Homo sapiens: one gene and its partners. The protein of the gene in region 2 interacts with the protein of the main gene of each other region in a pairwise test. Each region holds a gene or a part of one and is shown on either strand. Other genes may lie near its edges.

What was found.
Region 1: the proteins of EIF5 (region 2) and EIF1AX interact in a two-hybrid assay, tested with the Homo sapiens proteins (one study listed by IntAct).
Region 3: the proteins of EIF5 (region 2) and DUSP12 interact in binary tests that used the Homo sapiens proteins (3 or more experiments, as listed by UniProt).

The regions. Positions count from the first base shown.
Region 1 is NC_000023.11:20,124,813-20,131,930, forward strand, and holds part of EIF1AX (eukaryotic translation initiation factor 1A, X-chromosomal), read right to left. Parts: intron 5,796-7,118; coding exon 5,704-5,795; intron 3,500-5,703; coding exon 3,494-3,499; 3' UTR 1-3,493. UniProt on the Homo sapiens protein: Component of the 43S pre-initiation complex (43S PIC), which binds to the mRNA cap-proximal region, scans mRNA 5'-untranslated region, and locates the initiation codon. This protein enhances formation of the cap-proximal complex.
Region 2 is NC_000014.9:103,329,423-103,337,309, reverse strand, and holds the start of EIF5 (eukaryotic translation initiation factor 5), read right to left. Parts: upstream 3,074-7,887; 5' UTR 3,050-3,073; exon of another isoform or gene 2,922-3,049; 5' UTR 2,713-2,921; exon of another isoform or gene 2,650-2,712; intron 2,423-2,649; exon of another isoform or gene 2,125-2,422; intron 1,658-2,124; 5' UTR 1,450-1,657; coding exon 1,378-1,449; intron 1,275-1,377; coding exon 1,193-1,274; intron 634-1,192; coding exon 461-633; intron 195-460; coding exon 83-194; intron 1-82.
Region 3 is NC_000001.11:161,752,758-161,757,828, reverse strand, and holds the end of DUSP12 (dual specificity protein phosphatase 12), read right to left. Parts: intron 4,755-5,071; coding exon 4,568-4,754; intron 1,044-4,567; coding exon 882-1,043; 3' UTR 591-881; downstream 1-590. UniProt on the Homo sapiens protein: Dual specificity phosphatase; can dephosphorylate both phosphotyrosine and phosphoserine or phosphothreonine residues. Can dephosphorylate glucokinase (in vitro).

The DNA of each region.
Region 1 (7,118 bases), on a different chromosome or scaffold from region 2:
GTTTGGTAGCAATTTCAAATACTATGTTGACATGAATGTACAAATATACATTCTACGTGTTCCTTCTATTGTACGAATCAAAGACTGCACGCAAAAGAAATGGGAAATACAGAATACAGAAGACATGCACCTTCTATCTTACATAGTACTGGATATCAAGTGAAAAGAGCAGACACTGATCTAAGTACATTACATGTATAAACATCTAAATTATCAATCCTCCCAACAATTCTGCATGACAGGTACTGTTTTCATCATCCCCATCTTAGAGGTGAAGAACCTGAAGCTGAGACAAGCAGGAGAATGTGCCAGTGGTCACCTGCAGGTAGAGGGCCAAGTAAGGGTGGGGGCAAAGGCCCTTTGACCCCAGGATCCATGCTCTCCCCTCTCCAGTACACTGCCTCACAAGTACCTAGCAACTTGCAGGGCTAGGAGGGGGGAATAAGAGAGGACAAAGTCCAATACATTCTCCAAATTGCTCAGTTCATTCTATACCTGAGAGTCTTGTGTCTTTTCACATTTTGCTCTTTTCTGAATAGGAAGAAAAAAAGCAAAGATAAAAAGGATGGTAGTTTAGGGTAAACCAAAAACACAAAGCAGTGTGCAAAAGTTCATGGGAGTCCAAAGAGTATAAATAAAACTTACCCTTACGAAGTAGAATAAAGATAAGCATTTCATACCAATACAAATCATTTTCATCTTTATGACAGTCAGGTAACATCAAAAAAACCTTGCTTTCATTCTGATACTTTAGCTGTCAATCCAGTCAATACCGGTTGTTGTTAAGTCTGTATACAAGTAAAGTATAAATCTAGCTATTTTACTCAAAACATGCTTTTACCTATTTGATTACTCAGAGTTACTCTGAAATCAATAATGACAGCAGTTTATACCTATGGAAGATGTTACTGAACATCATAATCTAATATTTACATTAGATGAGATTAAGTTAAATTACAAGTCACAAAGAGTTTGTAAGCAAACATTTATAGCCATGATTCCACAGATGTGGTGAGTAAACCAACAGCCATTCCTAAATAAAATACAAGAATTTCCATCATGCATAGTTTACAGGCTTGGTAAGAAGCGGTCTCTTTAGGGGCCAGATGCTTAAGAAATATTCAACAAACAATGAAATCTTGGCTTTTTTTTTTTTTTACACAAATGTTTGGTTATTTAGCCACACTAGTGATAAAACATATTCATATTCTAACTGCAAGTGGAATAAACATTGCAACAAAAATGCAACCCAATCAAAATCATTAGTAATAACTATTACTCCCTCTTAGCAGTAAGAACCATTATTCTTGGATTTCAAACATTTTATTTTCTGTGCATAGCTTATAGCACTGTATTATAGGAATCAGAGTGTATAAGCAAAAAAATGAAAAATAAAACTTCTTGGAGACCATTTCCATTATTTATGATTAAATCAATGAAACTATACAATTTCCACATTAAATACAAATTAGTAGAAGAATTCCTCCAAGTAGTATTGCATATAAGCTACAACTTTACCCCAACTATTTTAATCACTATGATTCGAGATTTCCTAGGATTTAACAGCCCAAGATTGGGCTGTTACTACCTCAGCAAGAACAATCACCAGTAAATACATGAACTGGGGTTATAGCTGAATTTTTAGAAACTCTCCAGACAAACCACGTGTTAGAGGAGGTAAGTAGAAAAACTAATGTTTGAGCTGTGCTATTCCTACCAGGAACTATATCAAATATGCAAAGTTCAAACATTCTTAGTAAAATAATATGAAAGGATCTATATATACTGTAAATTTAGCAAAAACACTTTTATGTACAGAAGCCTAAATATCTTAGGAGGTTTAGAATACCAATGAAGAGAATTGTTAATTCTTCAAGGCTGGTTTCTTATGAGGATTAAAAACCAGCCCTTAGTCTCAGATGCATTCCACCTAGATGTGTTCACGAACTCCATAGAATAAGAAATATAAACCATGAATACGTACTCTTAATTTCCATTCTTCAACTTAATGTTCTATAGTACTTCAGATTTTTAAATCCAGAGTTTGGTGTACACTTAGGAAATTATAGTAAGAGTAGATTAGAGAAGATTTGCTTGTTTTCCTTTTGAAGCCATGTGAAGGTTTATTACCCTGTGTATTTTCATCACTGAAAAGTTCCCCGGTGACTAATAAAATAAAAGTGTCACAAGCTACATGATGGATCTCTTCTTTTAATGTTGCATAGAGTTTCAGTTTGGCTAGTGAGGGCTAACTAGCTCAGCCCTAGTTTCATTTTATTAGAGTTGACCACTAAAAACTAAATAAGGAAGTTACCAGTAAAGCTAATTCCCAATACAAGCAAAAAACAAAAACAAAAAACAAAAACAAAACCATTCACATAATAAAATATATCCTTAACACAAAATAAGGGTATAACATATTCTGCAGCATGACATTTTATTTTATTTCTCAGCTGTAGCTTTTTCATTCAGAAACTGGAGACCATCTTTTCACTGAGTTGTTATTCCTTCCTCTTCCCTTAGCTTAGGGATATGTTGAAAAAGGCTTTTCAACAAGTATTTTATTTTTTACAAGTTGCTATGAAATTAAAATTTATATATATATCTTAAGTGTTTATAAAGCACTCAAAATTGTAGCTTACATGTATATGACTTCTGAAAATAAAAATCACACTTCTAACATAATCTTTCTGCTCTGCAAAAATATTCTACATACATGCATATGATCAAAACAATCTTTTCATGTTTGGGGTATTTCTTACACATAGTAAAAGAAAAGTCAACAATTGTATCAGTACTTCCCCTGTTAAGATAACTGAGTGCCACCTAGTGTTCAATTTCTGCAACTACTAAGCTTACAAATTCAATACTGCTATTAAAACCCAGGTTCTGAAAACGGCATTTTGGAAATCTTTTTTTTTTTTTTTATGTTTACGGTGGCAAAATACGACTATGAAAAGAACATGATATCAAAATCAGTATAAAAATAGCCACAGGCTACTTAAATATGACAAACAGACTTATTTTTTTTCTTCAACTGCAGACTTCTGCCTCCCTCAAATTGTATCAAAATCTCAAGGGAATATCTAGGTAACTGGAATATACACAATGACTCTATACAATCAAGAGGCCAGGGCTTAATCAGATTCCGTGAGGACAAGGCAAATGATTTCTTCAAAACACCCATTTTCTTACTGGAAGTGGTAGGAAAAGCAGCAATGCATGGTTTTTTTTTTTTTTTGTAATTAGTAGACATGGTCTTCTACCCATAAGCTCCATTACATTAAAAGAACAAAGTGGGCTTAACATCTCACTTAAGATAATTCAGCATTATTATCAGTTTTAAAAAAACCAAAAATATCTTAGAAACAAATCAGTCTGCTTTAACAAATTGCATTCATGCTAATGAAATTTTAATCTTCTTTGTCATGATCAAAATCCAAATTGTAGGACAATCTTCAGAAAAGATGGAATGTAAAATGTTGAGTTCAATTTAGATCTGGAAGGGAAAAGAACATCAGATGAAAGGAAAAAGAATTCTTATATTCCAACAGTCTACTCCATATATAAGGGAGACTTTCACCTCCTTAGGCTATGTGAGAAACAAATCCAGTTTGAAGAAGAAATTCCTATAATTCTGGCCTGCTATAAGTAAATCGTGATGATCTCCTTTGTAATGTTACATGTTATGCAAAATATTCTTAATAAAATTTACTGTCTCCTTCCTTTAATGCTTGTAATTTGAGATTTTTGTATCTCATGGATGGGAGCAGACACAGGAAGCATGATATGATTGATCCCGTTCAGTGTGATACTGACCTAATTCTCCTGAGTCAATCTGGTTATAGTTAAAACATCTATAAACCACCTGGAGAAATGTCTCAAAGAGTAGGGTTCTCAGGTGACAGAGCCAACTTTTACAAAATGTTCAAGAGAACTCCTTTAATAATCACTCTTTACCATCCCTTTTCCAGCCAGCCAGCTGGGTCCAGTTCTGAGGAGGCGTTGGCCCAGATCCAGAAATTTTTACTGAGAAAATCTTGACCACGCCTAGATTCTCAACCCATTATCTTGGTGCATGCGGCTTCATATCCATGCATGTTCTCTGGTTAGGTTCCTTAATTTTTTTTTTTTTTTAAAGAGGCCTTCTACCCCTGCTCAGATGTCAAAATGTTTGGGTTGGCGCTTAATCCACATGTCAGCTGCAAGCTCTTATTTACCAAAGAATAGAATTGTTAATTCTATTGTCAAAATATTAGTAACAGTTTAGTCGTAAGACTCCTCTTGGCTCAGGGTCTCCAAAATTAAGAAAATAACAGAACAACATGTTTATTTCTCACTTCCTATTTTTGTGTACATGTTAAAATGTCTATAATATTAGTAATTTAACTCACAGTGTGAGTATTCTTGGTCAGGAACAACTGCTCTAGGTATTCCGAAATTCCATCTTTGCATCAAATTTAACGTTATTATGTTATTTATGTAGAGACAAAGTCTGGCTATGTTACCCAGGCTGGTCTTGAACTCCTGGGCTCAGGTGATCCTCCCCTATCAGTCTCCTGAGTAGCTGGGACTATGGGTGCATACCACCACATCTGACTTATTATTGTTTTTGGGTTGAAATACACAGGTGGTTTCTGAACTACATTTTAGTTAAAAGAGGTTTGAAAAGAAGAGCCCAAAACAGATTTAAGAGTAACACCCTAATCACTAAATAAATTTATACTGCCAAAAGATTAAGTTTGAATTTCATTCAATTACAGTAACAGCAGAAGTGCAGTAAAGCATTTACACTTATGGGCATTACTACTTTATTATTAGGAAAGACAATCCATTTTCCTCAAAATAAACATACCAACTGCAAACCAAGAGTTTGCCAACAGTACACACCCAACAGCTAAAAATACCATAATTGGCAATAGGCTTCCATTTTGACAAGGCTTTCAGTGTATGTTGTAATTCCAATGCTTCATATCAAGCTGGTTCAAACAAGATTCTTTCAACACACTAATATTTCAATTAAAAAGGCATGTTCCTTTGATAAGATCTATTTTTCAACTGTCCACTAAATTTCTTAATGGCTATCTCTTTAGAGACTCTTAATTAAACAAGTTATGATTAGAGTGGCTGGCGTTAATATTGCCAATGCAAACACTGACCTTTTCAGGAAGAGAAATTGAAGAGGGTTATAAGAATTCTCAAAATAGGGCCGGGCATGGTGGCTCACGCCTGCAACCCCAGCACTTTGGGAGGCCGAGGAGGGCAGATCACCGGAGGTCAGGAGTTCGAGACCAGCCTGGCCAACGTGGTGAAACCTCGTCTCTACTAAAAATACAAAAAATTAGCCAGGCGTGGTGGCACGCGCCTGTAGTCCCAGCTATTCAGGAGGCTGAGGCAGGAGAATCGCTTGAACCCAGGAGGCAGAGATTGCAGTGAGCTGAGATTGTACCACTGCACTCCAGCCTGGGTGACAGAACAAAACTCCATCACAAAAAAAAAAAAAAAAAAAAAAAAAAAAAGAATTCTCAAAATATAAACAGTTTGACCAGGTGTCTTCTAAATAATATTATTTAATTCAGACAATTCTCAAAATACAACCTTATTTAAGTGTCCCATGTTCTTAAAATTAATGGATGTTAGGGGAAAGTTGGTTTCTCCATGGATAATAACAAAAATTGGAAAACACAAGGTACATCTACTTACGTCATCAATATCTTCATCATCATCTCCAATGTCATCAAACTGAATTTCATCATCATCTCCAGGACCAAATGTATCAGTTTCATTGATTTTAGCTAAGGACACAGTAAGAAATACTCATAAGTCAGCACTGTAATTTACTCAAAGTTTCATCATAAGAGCATTCCTTTTATATAAGACAATAACTATAAAGAATATTTTATGAAAAAAAATTCCTGCAGTGTCACTGCTAAGTCAAGATGGGAGTATCTGTGTTACCATTTTCTTTTGTTTGCAAAGGTATTTTTAGTAAGGAAGGCCCTAATTACACTAATTCTGAAGCTATTATAACTTTCAGGTATACTTCTCAACATACAAGGAAATATGGTAACAACGTATTTCCTTAAGAATAGCTGGTTCACTAATCATCAGATAGACTCATCAATCAGAAAGATCTGGTCAAATCATGATTACCCCTAAGCAATGAAAATGAACCAGGAAGCGCTAGTCCTATTCCTATATACATTAACATTTCTTAGATCAGAAATGCTAAGTAATTTCAGCAGGACTTTCATGCTTAAGTAAAATATAACAAAATTATGTTTTTTCTTAAGATACAACAGAGCCAAAAATAATAACTGCCAAGTGAAAATGCAGGCCTACAGAACAGTATGTCAAGTACATTTCCCCTTTGATGAGGTTATAAGGGACTTATTTTTAGGTTTTCTGCGTTAAGAATTCATTACTTTTGTATTTGGAAGGGTGAAAACCAAGAAATGTTGCTTTTAAAAAATCCTATGGGATACTATTATACAACGATAAAATGGAAATATAACTTTTTAATAAAAATCAGTAATGAGGCCGGGCATGGTGGTTCACGCCTGAAATCCGAGCACTTTGGTAGGCAGAGGTGGGTGGATCATCTGAGGTCAGGAGTTTGAGACTAGCCTGACCAACATGGTGAAACCCCGTCTCTACTAAAACTACAAAATTAGCCGGGCATGGTGGTGCATGCCTGTAATCTCAGCTGCTTTGGAGGCTGAGAATCGCTTGAACCTGGGAGGCAGAGGTTGCAGTGAGCCAAGACTGCACCACTGCACTCCAGCCTGGGCAAAAGAGTGAGACTCCATTTCAAAACAAACAAACAAAATCAGTAACTGTACCTAATTACTTGCCCTTGCTTCATGGTTTTTTTTTTTTTTTTTTTTTAATTTTTTTTGAGACAAGGTCTCACTTTGTCACTCAGGCTCGAGTATAGTGGCATGATCATAGGTCACTGCATCCTTGAACTCTTGGACTCAAGCAATCCTCCCGTCTTGGCCTCCCAAGTAGCTGAGACTACAGGCATGTGCCACCATGCCCGGCTGACTTGCACTTCGTGTTTAACCCATATGCGCACTGACAGTCTCTCGAGGAAGGAATTTTAATAGATACTATAA
Region 2 (7,887 bases):
TATTACAAAAAAACCTTCTATTTTGTTCCCAACAGTTAGTAACTTATCTTAGGATCTTAGGAGTTCATCATGGAAGACTCACCAGGTGGGTTTTTGAGAATGAATGTGCAGAGTTTATGATGTGTGTCAAGCATGCCTCGATAGCCACAGGCTTTACAAGAATTACCTATTGTTTGCTTCTTTGGATTGACATGCTGCCAAAAAAATAACAAATGTTATCCATAATATAACATGAAAATATCTAATCAGAGGACATCTAAACCACAGACAGCTTCACATGCAAAGAAAACTTTTTTCACACAGTGACCTACTTTAAAAAAAAGAATGGAAATATCTCGAAAACTGGAGTTTTGTGTTTGATTTAAAATTACATTTGCTCTGCCTTCTCAGGAAGGTGACTTAGCGGTATCACAGAAGCAGGTATATGGCTTTTTCTTTCGACAACCACAAAAGCACTTACCAAATCTGTTTCAGGATTCTCACATTCAGGACAGAGAACAAATTTTTTAATGAATCCATCCAACATGTCTTGCAGCTTATTCGCCTCATGAGATCCATTGACAATGTAACGGTCATTCTTAACATCAAACTGGGTCTGTGCTCCCAGCTCACAACCAAAATATTTGGTGGGATCTATTTGAATGAAAAAGGAGTTTGGATCGTTACAGTTAACTAGATCTCTGGCTACTCACTCACATTTGTACGAACACCACTTTTTTTTTTTTTTTGAGACAAGAGTCTCACTCTGTCACCCAGGCTGGAGTGCAACGGCGTGGTCTCAGCTCACTGCAACCTCCGTTTCCGGGGTTCAAGCGATTCTCCCCCTTCAGCCTCCCAAGTAGCTGGGACTACAAGCGCATGCCACCACGCCTGGCTAATTTTTGTATTAGTAGTAGACTCAGGATTTCACTATGTTGGCTAGGCTGGTCTAGAACTCCTGACCTCGCGATCCGCTTGCCTCAGCCTTCCAAAGTGCTGGGGGTTACAGGTGTGAGCCAACGCGCCCAGCCATCCACTCTTTAAATGCGTTCCCCTGGTAGTTTTGTAAACTCATGGCAACCAATAAACCACGGTTCCTCACTTAACTTGTAAGGTAATTAGCTAGCATACAATTAGAACAAGTTTTGCAGCTCAAAGACTTTGAAGACTCTATCCATAATATGCCCTGTGGACTTTTCCAAGCTTTACTTACACGTTGGAGGCCGATTAAGCGCCTTTGCAACGTCAACCATGTTGACTATAACTGTCTTGATTCCATTGCCTTTGCCCTCAACCTAAAGGAAATAAGAATTTTAGTTGTGCAGTTTCCCCTGACAAATGCAAACTTCAAAATTCTACAAAAAGAGCTATCAACTAAATTGAAGAGCAGTTTATTACCTTGGCAATCAGACGGGGCATCTTGTAGCGATAGAACTGGTCTGACACGCTGCGGTTGACATTGACAGACATTTTGGCTTATTAGTGGCTTTATCAATAAGATGAAGAGATCTTTGATTGCAACTTTTTGGTATCTTCTGTCTGGAGAAGAAGGGATGACATAAACGACTGCAAGAGTTCTCGGTCTCTGACATGAAAAAATTTTCGCCACTGAGGCTGTAAGCTTCTTGCTTGTATGCTATGTTTCCCCAATACAGGTACCAATGGCTGCGCAACAGCTCTGAAAGAAAAAGGGAAAGAACACACAAAAATCCCCCCAGGTTTAACATCATCGCTGGATGGAAACGCCTCCTTTTTACATCCTAGTTATGCTTCTGCTTAACTCCACCTTAAAAAGCATCTGAGATCACATGCAAACAGCCATTCTCATGTAACACAGTACAATCTGCGGGAACATAAAAAGGCCTCCATTTCGACTAAGCTGTGACTGGTAGGGAAATGCCTGACAAGAAAACACAAGCTGTGCTGCCTCAGCCGCCGTGAGATTCCATCAGACCGAGGGCAATCAGCAGGTTTGCCTCTGCGGCCATCCTGGAAGTGCTGAAGAACGAACCCGAGCCCTCTCCGCCGCCCACCCCGCCTGGATAAGCAAACTTCTCAGGCACACCCCCGTTCGTCTTCATTTTTAAGGGCAACCTAGGGAACTGTTCTCTACAACTAATCGTTGCTTCGGCAACCATGGCTTACTTCAAAGCAGCACTTCCTTAAACGCAGCGCTCGCCCACAATTTGCCATTAAGCAAGAGAGCGCGAGCGAACGCCAGGCTCGCCCCGGCCTCCCTTTTCCTCGCTATTCAAATACTCGGTTAACCTTCGCCCTGGTCCCCATGGCTACCGCGCTCCGAGGCGTTTCCGCGGGGGCTGGCGAACCGGGCAGCTCCGCGAAGGAGGGGGGCGCGCGACCGGGGCGTCTGGCCCCATCCCCAGCGCGTCCCCCGAGAGCCGGCGGCCCCGGAGGGTGCACAGCCGGGAAGCGACACACGGCCGAGGGGTGCCGGGATCGGGCCGCCCCCGCCCCAGAGCGCGCGATGACTCACAAATGCAGCAGCTGAAGCCTGAGTCAGCCCGAGCGGCGGGCACGCGCGACGCGCTCCCGCCATGCCGGGGAGGGGGCGAGGCCGGGCCGGGGAGCGCGCGGGGAGGGGGCGGCCGGCGCCCGGGCCCGCGCCCGCCCGCCGTCCGCCCAAACTGCGCCACACGCCGCGGCGGGGTCACGCGGCGGCCGCCGCCATCTTGTGCGGCCGCCATCTCCTGGCCCGCCGCGCCCGCGACTCACCGTTTTCGTCAAATAAAGACATAAACCCAACGCTGCTCGCCCGGGACTGGGATGAAGTGAGGCGCGATATAAACCCGAGTCCGAGTCCGAGGAGGCGGAGGCGAAGCGCAGCGAGGAGCGGCCGGGCCAGGTGCCGCCGCCGAGCAGCGGGGAGGGGCTGTCCCAGCGACGTCCGCGGTCCACACCCGTCAGCGCCGGAGCTGGGCGACCTGGCGCGGAGAGACGGCGCCGTGAGCCGTGGGCGGTCGGGGAGTGCACCTTCCCCGCCAGCCAGCGGCCCGAGGGGTCGAGGGGGCGGGAAGCACCGGGCAGGGGGCCGCCCCTTCACCGGACTCACCTCTGGAATGTTCTCGCTCTGACTGAACAACGCCGCCGCCGCGCTCAAGCTACCCTCGGCCCCAGCGTCCGCCCCCCGCGTCAGGCCTCACTGCCCATTGGCTGGAGGCCTGCCACAGCTCGCTCGTCATTGGTTCGCTTGCGACGTCAATCGCATCTTTCCGCGCCCCTTCTGCTTCCTGAGGCTCAACTCGCGGCCTCGGCCCGCCTCCAGCCCCGGTCTCGCTTCCTTCCTCTCCCCTCCCCCCGCCTTTCCCAGAGGTCTTCGCGGCGCAGCCCTTGGGTCTCGCGAGACCCGGAGTGGCCCTGGTGGCGGGGCCGGGGTACCGGGGGCCGTTCTTTGTCGGTTTGGGCCTTGAGGGGGAGATGGTGGTTGGTCCCCTCCCTCGCCGGGTCTGGGACAGGCCGCGGCGTCATGGCGACTCCCGGGACGCAGGAGCCATCGTCCTCGAAACTGCTTTCGAGGCCGTGTTTTTGCGGCTGCCACCTTCGGGGAGAGGAACCCGACCGCGTTCTCCCCGCAGCGGGCGCTCATCTCCCTTTCCCGTTCTCCCGGGACGCCCGACTCCGGGCCTCGAGGAATGAGTTGTTTTTCCACCTTAAGCCCCAGGCCTGGGTCTTTCATCCCAGGGACGTCTTCTGTTTCGGACTCGGGGTGGATTGGCCGCTGGCGGAACGAGTCCGTGACTCGCCAGTGACCGCCCAGGGCGGTCGCGAGGCCGCGCCGCCTCGGTGTCGGCCCGCAACCCAGCCTGCGCGCTTAGCTCAGCGCGTCGCCTCCCGTTTTCGGAAGAGGAGGCCCTTAATTGGTTTGGAATCCTGGGGCCTCCTGAAGGCGCTTCGTGGTGGGTTCCCACCTTCTGGTGAAGGCCTCCCTGCTCTCCCAGGGTTGAAAAGCGCTATCCTTCGTGCTTCTCTTGTCACCTTTCTCCTAGTGGGCATCACGTCGAGTCCACCCCCTCTAGTTTATGACTTGTGAATTCTTTGATAAGCAAATCGTAGCCCAGAGCAGGCATTTATAATGAGATTCCAATGTATTCCGTTGAAAATTACTATTATTTAGGCCGGTCGCGGTGGCTCACGTCTGTAATCCCAGCACTTTGGGAGGCTGAGGTGGGCGGATCACCTGAGGTCGGGAATTTGAGACCAGCCTGGCCAATATGGTGGAACCCTGTCTCTACTAAAAATACAAAAAATTAGCTGGGCGTGGTGGCTCGCTTGTAATCCCAGCTACTCGGGAGGCTGAGGCAGGAGAATCCTTGAACCCGGGAGGCACAGGTTACAGTGAGCCGAGATCACACCACTGCACTCCAGCCTGGACAACAGAGCGAGACTGTCTCCAAAAAAAAAAAAAAAGAAAATTTTTATTATTTAGAGAGAGGCTCTCATATTTTAGTTCTGTTGAAACTCTCCCATTCTTTCTGAAACTTGGATTTTTTTTGTGAAAACTTGAGTCTTAAAAACACATCCATAGTTCACCCTGAAGTTTGAAGACCTCACTTGACTGATGGAGCGAGAGCCCCGCTAACCTGCACTCTGGTCTCTAAGGTGCAGTCATCGAGAAGTCCTGAGCGGCCGTGCAGGTTTCCCGATCTGGAAAAGAGAAATGTTGCTGAGGACAGGATGAGGTAGATAAGGGGCTGCCCTTTGTTTTGGACCAGTTGCATTTGCACTGAGGTTAGAATTGGCAGCTATGTTGATTTTTATATCAAAATCCAAGATCGTGCTTCCATAACTAAAAGCTTTATAAACAACTTAAAAATTGGCAGTGTTGGTAGGAAGAAATAAAGGCACAATCCAGAATTGAGAGGTGATTTGTGTCCTTTAGGGCAGGGACTTTTATAATCCCGCAGTGTGTACCTTGGTGTATAGTTGTTAAGCCAAGTGCACAGTGCCTTGTGAGTACCAGGGTTCCCATCAGACAAACTAGAAAAGGGGATCCCAGACATGCTGCTGCTGTTTCACTGTGGAGCATGACTTAGCAGTATTGAAACAGATCTGACTTTTTGCTTGGCAGCACAAAAATGATGTTATTTTAGAAACTCTGTTGGAAAGTATAGGCATGAAACTAGTCTGAGGTGAGAGGCCTGCCTTTTCAGAAAAGTTTTAATGAAACACGAAGTAATTAGCTTTTTTGTATGTTTAGTGGCACAATTTTTAATTTCGTTGAAGTTTGTAATAATTTTAACTGCTTTTTAATATGTGTACCACTCATTTGTATGCAACCATGGACAACTTAAAAAAATACTTTTGTGTTCTTTTTCTCCCTTTTATTTTTAGTTAATACATAATAACACATTTGTGGGATACAAAGTGATATTTCAGTACATGTATACAACGTGTAATGATCAAAGCACAGTAATCAGCATATCCATCACCTCAGATGTTTATCATTTCTTTGTGTTGGGAACATTCAGAATTCTCTCTTCTAGCTTTTTGAAAATATACAATAGATTGTTGTTAAGTATATTTACCTTGAAATACTACAGAGCACTAGAACTTATTGAGCTGCAATTTTGTATCAACCTCTCCCTCTCCTCTCCTCCCACTAGCCTTCCCAGCTTCTAATAAACCACAATTCAAGTCTCTACTTCCATGAACTCGAATTTTTTTTTAGCTCCCACATATGAATGAGAATATGTGGTATTTATCTTTCTGTGCCTGACTTATTTCACTTAATATGATACTGTCCTCCAGTCTCAGCCATGTTGCTTCAGATAAAAGGATTTCATTATTTTTTTATGACTGAATAGTGTTCCAGTATATGTAAAACTTTTTTTTTTTGAGACGGAGTCTCACTGTATCACCCAGGCTGGAGTGCAAGTGGTCTGATCTCAGTTCACTGCAACCTCCGGCTCCCAGGTTCAGGCGATTCTCCTGCCTCAGCCTCCCAAGTGGCTGGGACAACAGGTGCGTGCCATCAAGCCCGGCTAATTTTTTTTTTTTTTTTTTAGTAGAGACAGGGTTTCACTGTATTGGACAGGCTGGTCTGTCTTGAACTCCTGTGTGATCCACCTGCCTTGGCCTCCCAAAGTCCTGGGAGTACAGGCGTGAGCCACCACGCCCAGCCTATAACACATTTTCTTTATCCTTTTTTTTTTTTTTTAAATAATAAGATGGCGCGGGAGGGGTGGGGGGGGGGCTCACTATGTTGCCTAGGCTGGTCTCGAACTCCTGGCCTCAAGCAGTCCTCCCACCTCGGCATCCTGAAGTGCTGGGATTACAGGCATGAGCCACTGCAACCAGCCTGTCCATTCATTTGTTGGTGGACGCTTAAGTTGATTCCATATCTTTTGCTATTGTGACTGGCGCTGCAATAAACATGGGGGTGCAGATATCTCTTTGATAATATTGATTTGATTTCCTTTGGATAAATACCTAGTAGTGGGATTGCTGGATCATATGGAAGATCTATTTTTAGTTTTTTGAGAAACCTCCATGCTGTTTTCCCTAATGGCTGTACTAATTTACCTTCCCACCCACAGTGCATCAGAGTTCCCTTTTCTCTGCACCCTTGCCAGCATTTGCTATTTTTTGTCTTTGTGGTTTTGATTTGCGTTTCCCTGTTGATTAGTGACATTGAGCATTTTTTCATACATGTGTTGGCCACTTGTATGTCTTTCTTGGAGAAATATCTATTGAGATCGTTTGTCTATTTAAAAATCAGATTTATTTATTTTTTGTCACTGAGTTGTTTGAGTTCCTTGTTTATTCTGGATATTGGCACCTAAAAATTACTCTTAATCATACCATTTGTTAAATGCTTATCATATCCTAGGAGTTTTCTAAGTTCTTGGAATACATTATCTTATTTCCCAGGCCCTATGAGGAATTCGTATTTCCATTTTACAAATGAGCGAACCAAGGCTTAGTGGAAAAAAATTAAGCAACTTACCCAAATCATGTACCTAGTAAGTGGCAGAGCTAGGATTTAAAGACAGCTCTGTCTGATCCCAAAGCCTGTTCCCTTAAAAATTATGTGGCATGGCCTCTCCAGATAAATACAAAAACAAACAAAACTAGGCATTTTACATATGTAATCCCATTCTTTAATAATCATGTAAGGAGATGTTGTTATACCCATTTTACAGGTGAGGAAAGAGACTCAGGAAGGTTAAGCAATTTTCCCCAAAGTCGCCTCCCTAATAAATGATGGACAGCGTTTGAACTCCAGCTTGTGTGACGCCAAGCTCATTGCACAATTCCACTTCCCGTTTCTGGATCTCCACCTCATTTGGCTGCATTATTTTCCCCAGTCAGGTGCTCACAGTCCGTGCACTAATGGACACTTGGTGCTTGTCAAAACCTTGCTGAATGAGTGCATGAATTGCACACCTCAGTGCATGCCCTGATGACAGGAATAGCTGCTGGAAAGGTAGATTGGTAAACTGGCCTTCTGGTTGTTTACACATTGGCTGTGACTCTGTTGAATGTGAATGAGTGTCCCCTCCCTCCCACCCCCCACCAAGATCAACTCTGCATGGACTGAGAGCCTTGTGTTTCTGAGCTGTGAGCTCTCAAATGGACTCAGATATTGTACACTGTGAGGGGCAGTGGTCCTCCTCTGTGACACCCACCTCTCAACTTTTTTTTTTTCTTTTTTTTTTGAGATGGAGTCTCGCTCCGTTGCCAGGCTGGAATGCAATGGCACGATCTCAGCTCTTGCAACCTCTGCCTCCTGGGTTCAAGTGATTCGCCTGCCTCAGCCTCCTCAGTAGCTGGGATTACAGGCACCTGCTACCATGCCCGGCTAGTTTTGTATTTTTAGTAAGAGACGGGGTTTCTCCATGTTGGTCATGCTGGTCTCGAACTCCCAGCCTCAGGTGATCCGCCCATCTC
Region 3 (5,071 bases), on a different chromosome or scaffold from region 2:
ACTCCTGACCTTAAATGATCTGCCTGCCTTGGCCTCCCAAAGTGCTGGGATCATAGGCATAAGCCACTGCACCTGGCCTTTATTAGTTAATTCTGATTCTTGTAAATGTTCAAATATCTAATTAGGTCCAATTGTAATTATTAATAATGAGTAAAATAATTCTAGTTTCTATACATCAGGTTAAAAAACTAATCTGGACGTATTACCTTTTCCAATACTCACATATTGGGCTACAAAATGACTTGATATATAGTAACTCTACATTTGTTTTCTTCATCATTAGAAACACATCTAACATTTATGTATTTCTTTATGTAGATCACTTCAAAAGGGATCTCAAACACTTTTCTAAAAATATAGATAATTGGGATTACTGAACAGTAATAGGAAAATTGCCTTTTAATCAGCGTTTTACTAATGGCCTTTCCATTTCCAAGAAAAAAATCCAGACATGTATGGGTTTACTAATGTCCCTTAAAAGAAAGAAAGTGAAATAATTCCAAAATATGTCCAAACAAATCTGCTTTATGTGTCTGGAAATAAAAGAATACCCATTTAAATATAATAGTTTCAAATTTTTGTACATAATTTTGTCTATACAGACCTTAAGATCATATAACATTCCAACAATCAAAACTTTTAAAAATATATGAAACACAGACAGTATCTGGTTATAAAAGATTTTAATATCAAATAAAATGTACATGATCAAAAGGCTTTGATTGCCATGTAAAGCATAGTTTCCAGGTTACATCAAGTGATTTTATCTTCTCCCATTTCAAATGAAATGTTGAAAGCACAAACAATCTGCCATGAATGATAAGAAGCAAAGGCAGCACATATCATCTGCAAGTTTCTTCCCAAGCTATAAAATATCATGTTCATATTTTTCCTGTTTGTGATCCCAAAACAGGCAATATTTTCATTTCATCCACTCTATTCTTATGTATTTGAAAAGCAGGTGTTATCCACCTACCACAAGAGCACTGTTCACCATACCAGTTGAAGGAACCCAACTTGGCACTGCATTTTGGGCAAAGAAGCTGAAATAAAGCAAATGTGTTACTTTATTCATTCACTTTTATACAAAACAAATCATTATCTTTGGCAATCAATATAGGATATAAAAACAAGACACGATCCCCACGTTGAGTTTATAATCTAATCAGTGAGATAAAATGCATTGGAAATTTACTGTAATAGATAGTAGACTACAATTATCTCATAGGAAGAATGTTGTATTCAGGGAGCTTGAAGGGAGAAAAGTGAAGCTTGAGATTTGATTAAGGAAGGTTTCATGGATGTGGCATATATATATATATATATATATATATATATATATATAGCTTTTAAATCAGTTTGTAATTTAGGACTTCAAATGAAAATGATCACGGCTAAAGTATAGAAAAGCATGTTAGGATTTTCATGCTGTATTACTAACTGTGTGTATTGACAGCATATAAGTCAGATTCTTAGCTATTTAAAGACAAACTGATATTCCAGGAAAATAGGTAAATCAAAAAAGCCTAATAAGGCAACTGCATTTTCTTCTAATGTAGTTAGTTATAGCATTAATTTTTATGTTTAGCTCTTTGATTTATGCATGGTATAAGGTAAGAGTTTTTATTTTTAATCTTGAGCTATAGAAAACTAGACATAAAACTCAGAAGCAGGCTGAGTGTGGTGGCTCATACCTGTAATTCCCAGCACTTTGGGAGGCCAAGGCGGGCAGATCACCTGAGGTCAGGAGTTTGAGACCAGCCTGGTCAACATGGTGAAACCCCGTCTCTACTAAAAACACAAAAATTAGTTGGGCATGGTGGCGGATGCCTGTAATCACAGCTACCTGGGAGGCTGAAGCAGGAGAATATTTGAACCCAGAAGGCGGAGGTTGCAGTGAGCCAAGATCACACCACTGCACTCCAGCCTGGGCAACAGAGCAAGACTCCGTCTCAAAAAAAAGAAATTCAGAAGCCATAAATAAAAAAACTAACAAATTTTATTATGTAAATATCCTTCATTTTAATATGACAAAACATAAAAAATCTGATAAGCAATAGACTGAAGAAAATAGTTGCAATATATTAGATGAACTATTAACATCTAGAATATATAGAGGTCCTACAAATGAGTAAGAAAGAGACAAAACCCATAGGCAAATGGGCCTAGGAATATGAAAGCAATTTATAGAAAAGAAAACAGTAAATGGCTGGTAAATATATAAAGATGGTGGTTGATGACTATTTTCATAAAATTCCAATTAAACATTTTAGGATTAACATTTTTTACCCCACAGACTGACAAAATGTTACCAGTTTTATAGTATCTATTATGTCAAGGATATGGAGTAACGGGTACATGCATTCAGTTACTGAAAACCAAATTTGTATGGGCATTTTGAATATCAGCCTGGAATATCACTAATATTTAAAATACATTCTTCGAGCCAGGAATTCCACTTCTAGGTACATATTCTACAGAAAAAAATCAAATATGTATACAAATAAGTATGCACAGGATTTAGAATCTTACATAAAAATGTATTTAACTTGGCTGGAGTGTGTGTGTGTGTTTCCCAGGTTAAGTAAAATTAGAAAGCCAGAATCACAAGCCACAAAAAAGAAAAACTGATAAATTAGATACCATCAAAATTAAAATCTCTAACTGCTACAAATAATACCATCAAGAATGGGAATTGCAGCTGGGCATGGTGGCTCACGCCTGTAATCCCAGCACTTTGGGAGGCTGAGGCAGGTGGATTACCTGAGGTCAGGAGTTCGAGACCAGCCTGACCAACATGGAAAAACCCCGTCTCTACTAAAAATACAAAATTAGCCAGGCGTGGTGGCGCATCCCTGTAATCCCAGCTACTCAGGAGGCTGAAGCAGGAGAATCACTTGAACCCGGGAGGCAGAGGTTGTGGTGAGCCAAGATTGTGCCATTGTACTCCAGCCTGGGCAACAAGAGTGAAACTCCGTCTCAAAAAAAAAGAATGGGAAGAGTGGGAATGTGAATTGTGATGTGATACGGTTTGGTTCTGTGTCCCCATCCAAATCTCATCTCAAATTGTAATCCCCAAGTGTGGAAGAAGAGAGGTGATTGGATCATGGAGGCAGATACCCCCATGCTGTTCTCGTGATAGTGAATGAGCACTCATAAGATCTGATGGTTTTATAAGTGTTTGACAGTTCCTCCTTCACATATGCTTCTCTCTCCTGCCGCCTTGTGAAGAAGTGGCCTGCTTTCCCTTCTGCCATGATAATAAGTTTCCTGAGGCCTCCCCAACCATGCAGAACCATGAGTCAATTAAACCTCCTTCCTTTATAAATTACCCAGTCTCACGTACTATCTTTATGGCAGTGTGAAAATAGACTAATACACGATGGTTGCAAAAACCACTGTGAATACACTTTAAAAGCCACTGAACTATACACCTTAAATAGGTAAATTGCATGTTATGTGAATTATACTATAATAAGGCTGTTTTTTTTAAAAAAAGCAGCATTATCCGAAAATGTGAGTTTGATTATATGGTACCACTTTCTAGGCAAGACACTACTCATAAACAGTTTCCTCATGCACAACACGTGAATATAACTGCTCTACCTATTTTATAAAGCTATGGCATTCTTCAAATGGTATAATACAGTGAAAGGGTTTCATAAACTAGCCACTATACAAACTTTTATACAAACCATACAAACTTTCAAAATCATTATTAAGATGATTATTATAGAATACCTTCACATTAATATCAAGTAAACCTAAAGGAGAAATGTGGCTGTCATGGCACACTCCAACCAAGTTAAACACTTTTTTATGTAAAATGTCACATGAACTGCATTCTTTTTTTATTTCCCTACCCACTGGTTACAGGAGCAATAGGATGAGCTGCATTATTTAACTGGAAATGAAAAAGAATCTCATAGCAAAACAAACTAAATTTCACTCTCCTAAAAGATAAGAAAAAAGAGAAAGACACATACAGGAAGCCAACAGAGAAAAAGAAAGACAGAATTTTTAACCTAATTTTAAAATCCCTGATTTACCCTATCTTGTTACAAAGTTCAAATTTTGTTTAATACATTTTTTCTTTTCTTTTTTTCTTATTAAAAATTTTTTACTTTCTTTTATAGAGATGAGGTCTCACTATATTGCCCAAGCTGGTCTCGAAACCCTGGGCTCAAGTGATCCTCCCGCCTCAGCCTCCCAAAGTGCTCAGATTACAGGCATGAGCTAATGAGGCAAGAGTGCCCAGCCAATATATTCTAATTAGTTTAAAAATAAATGTTAGTCTTATATTTGAAAAAAATATAAATAGCCTTAAAGGAAATTTATTAACTTAGACCAGGGCTCTCAACCAGAAGTAGTTCACTATGTTGGATCAGCTGGTTTTTGAAAAATATTTTATTTTTGATAGTCTTATCTACACTAGAAAGATATAATCTTCAGAAATAAAGAAATTAAGAAATGGAGCAAAACACTAGTTAAAATAGAGCTTAAAATGCAAGAAGGAATAAAATATAGATCATAAAATAAAATTGTAGAAAATAAAATGTGTTCTCACCTGTCCATCCATCACTCCCAACAAAGCAGATTCCATCCACTGTACAGGTTCAATGAAATAAGATGTACATTGAGCTTGCCTCCCTGTGGTAAGCATGGAAGATGGTGTCATTCTCTTGTGGGCAAAGGCTATAGGTCCACTTCCTTCACGGTGATCCAGAATACTAGAACTTCGAAATAATGATCGCCTGCAACCCCCAAACAAACAAAAGCATTAATGACTTCCAAAAGGATGAAAACATGGATGAAATGTGCGGTATTTCTTTTTTTTTTGAGACAGAGTCTCACTCTGTCGCCCATGCTAGAGTGCAGTGGCGTGATCATGGCTCACTGCAACCTCCGCCTCCTGGGTTCAACCAATTCTCCTGCCTCAGCCTCCTGAGTAGCTGGGATTACAGGCACCAGCCACCATGCCCAACTAATTTTTGTATTTTTAATAGAGACGGGGTTTCACCATGTTGGCCAGGCTGGTCTCAAATTCCCAATCTCAGGTGATCTGCCTGCC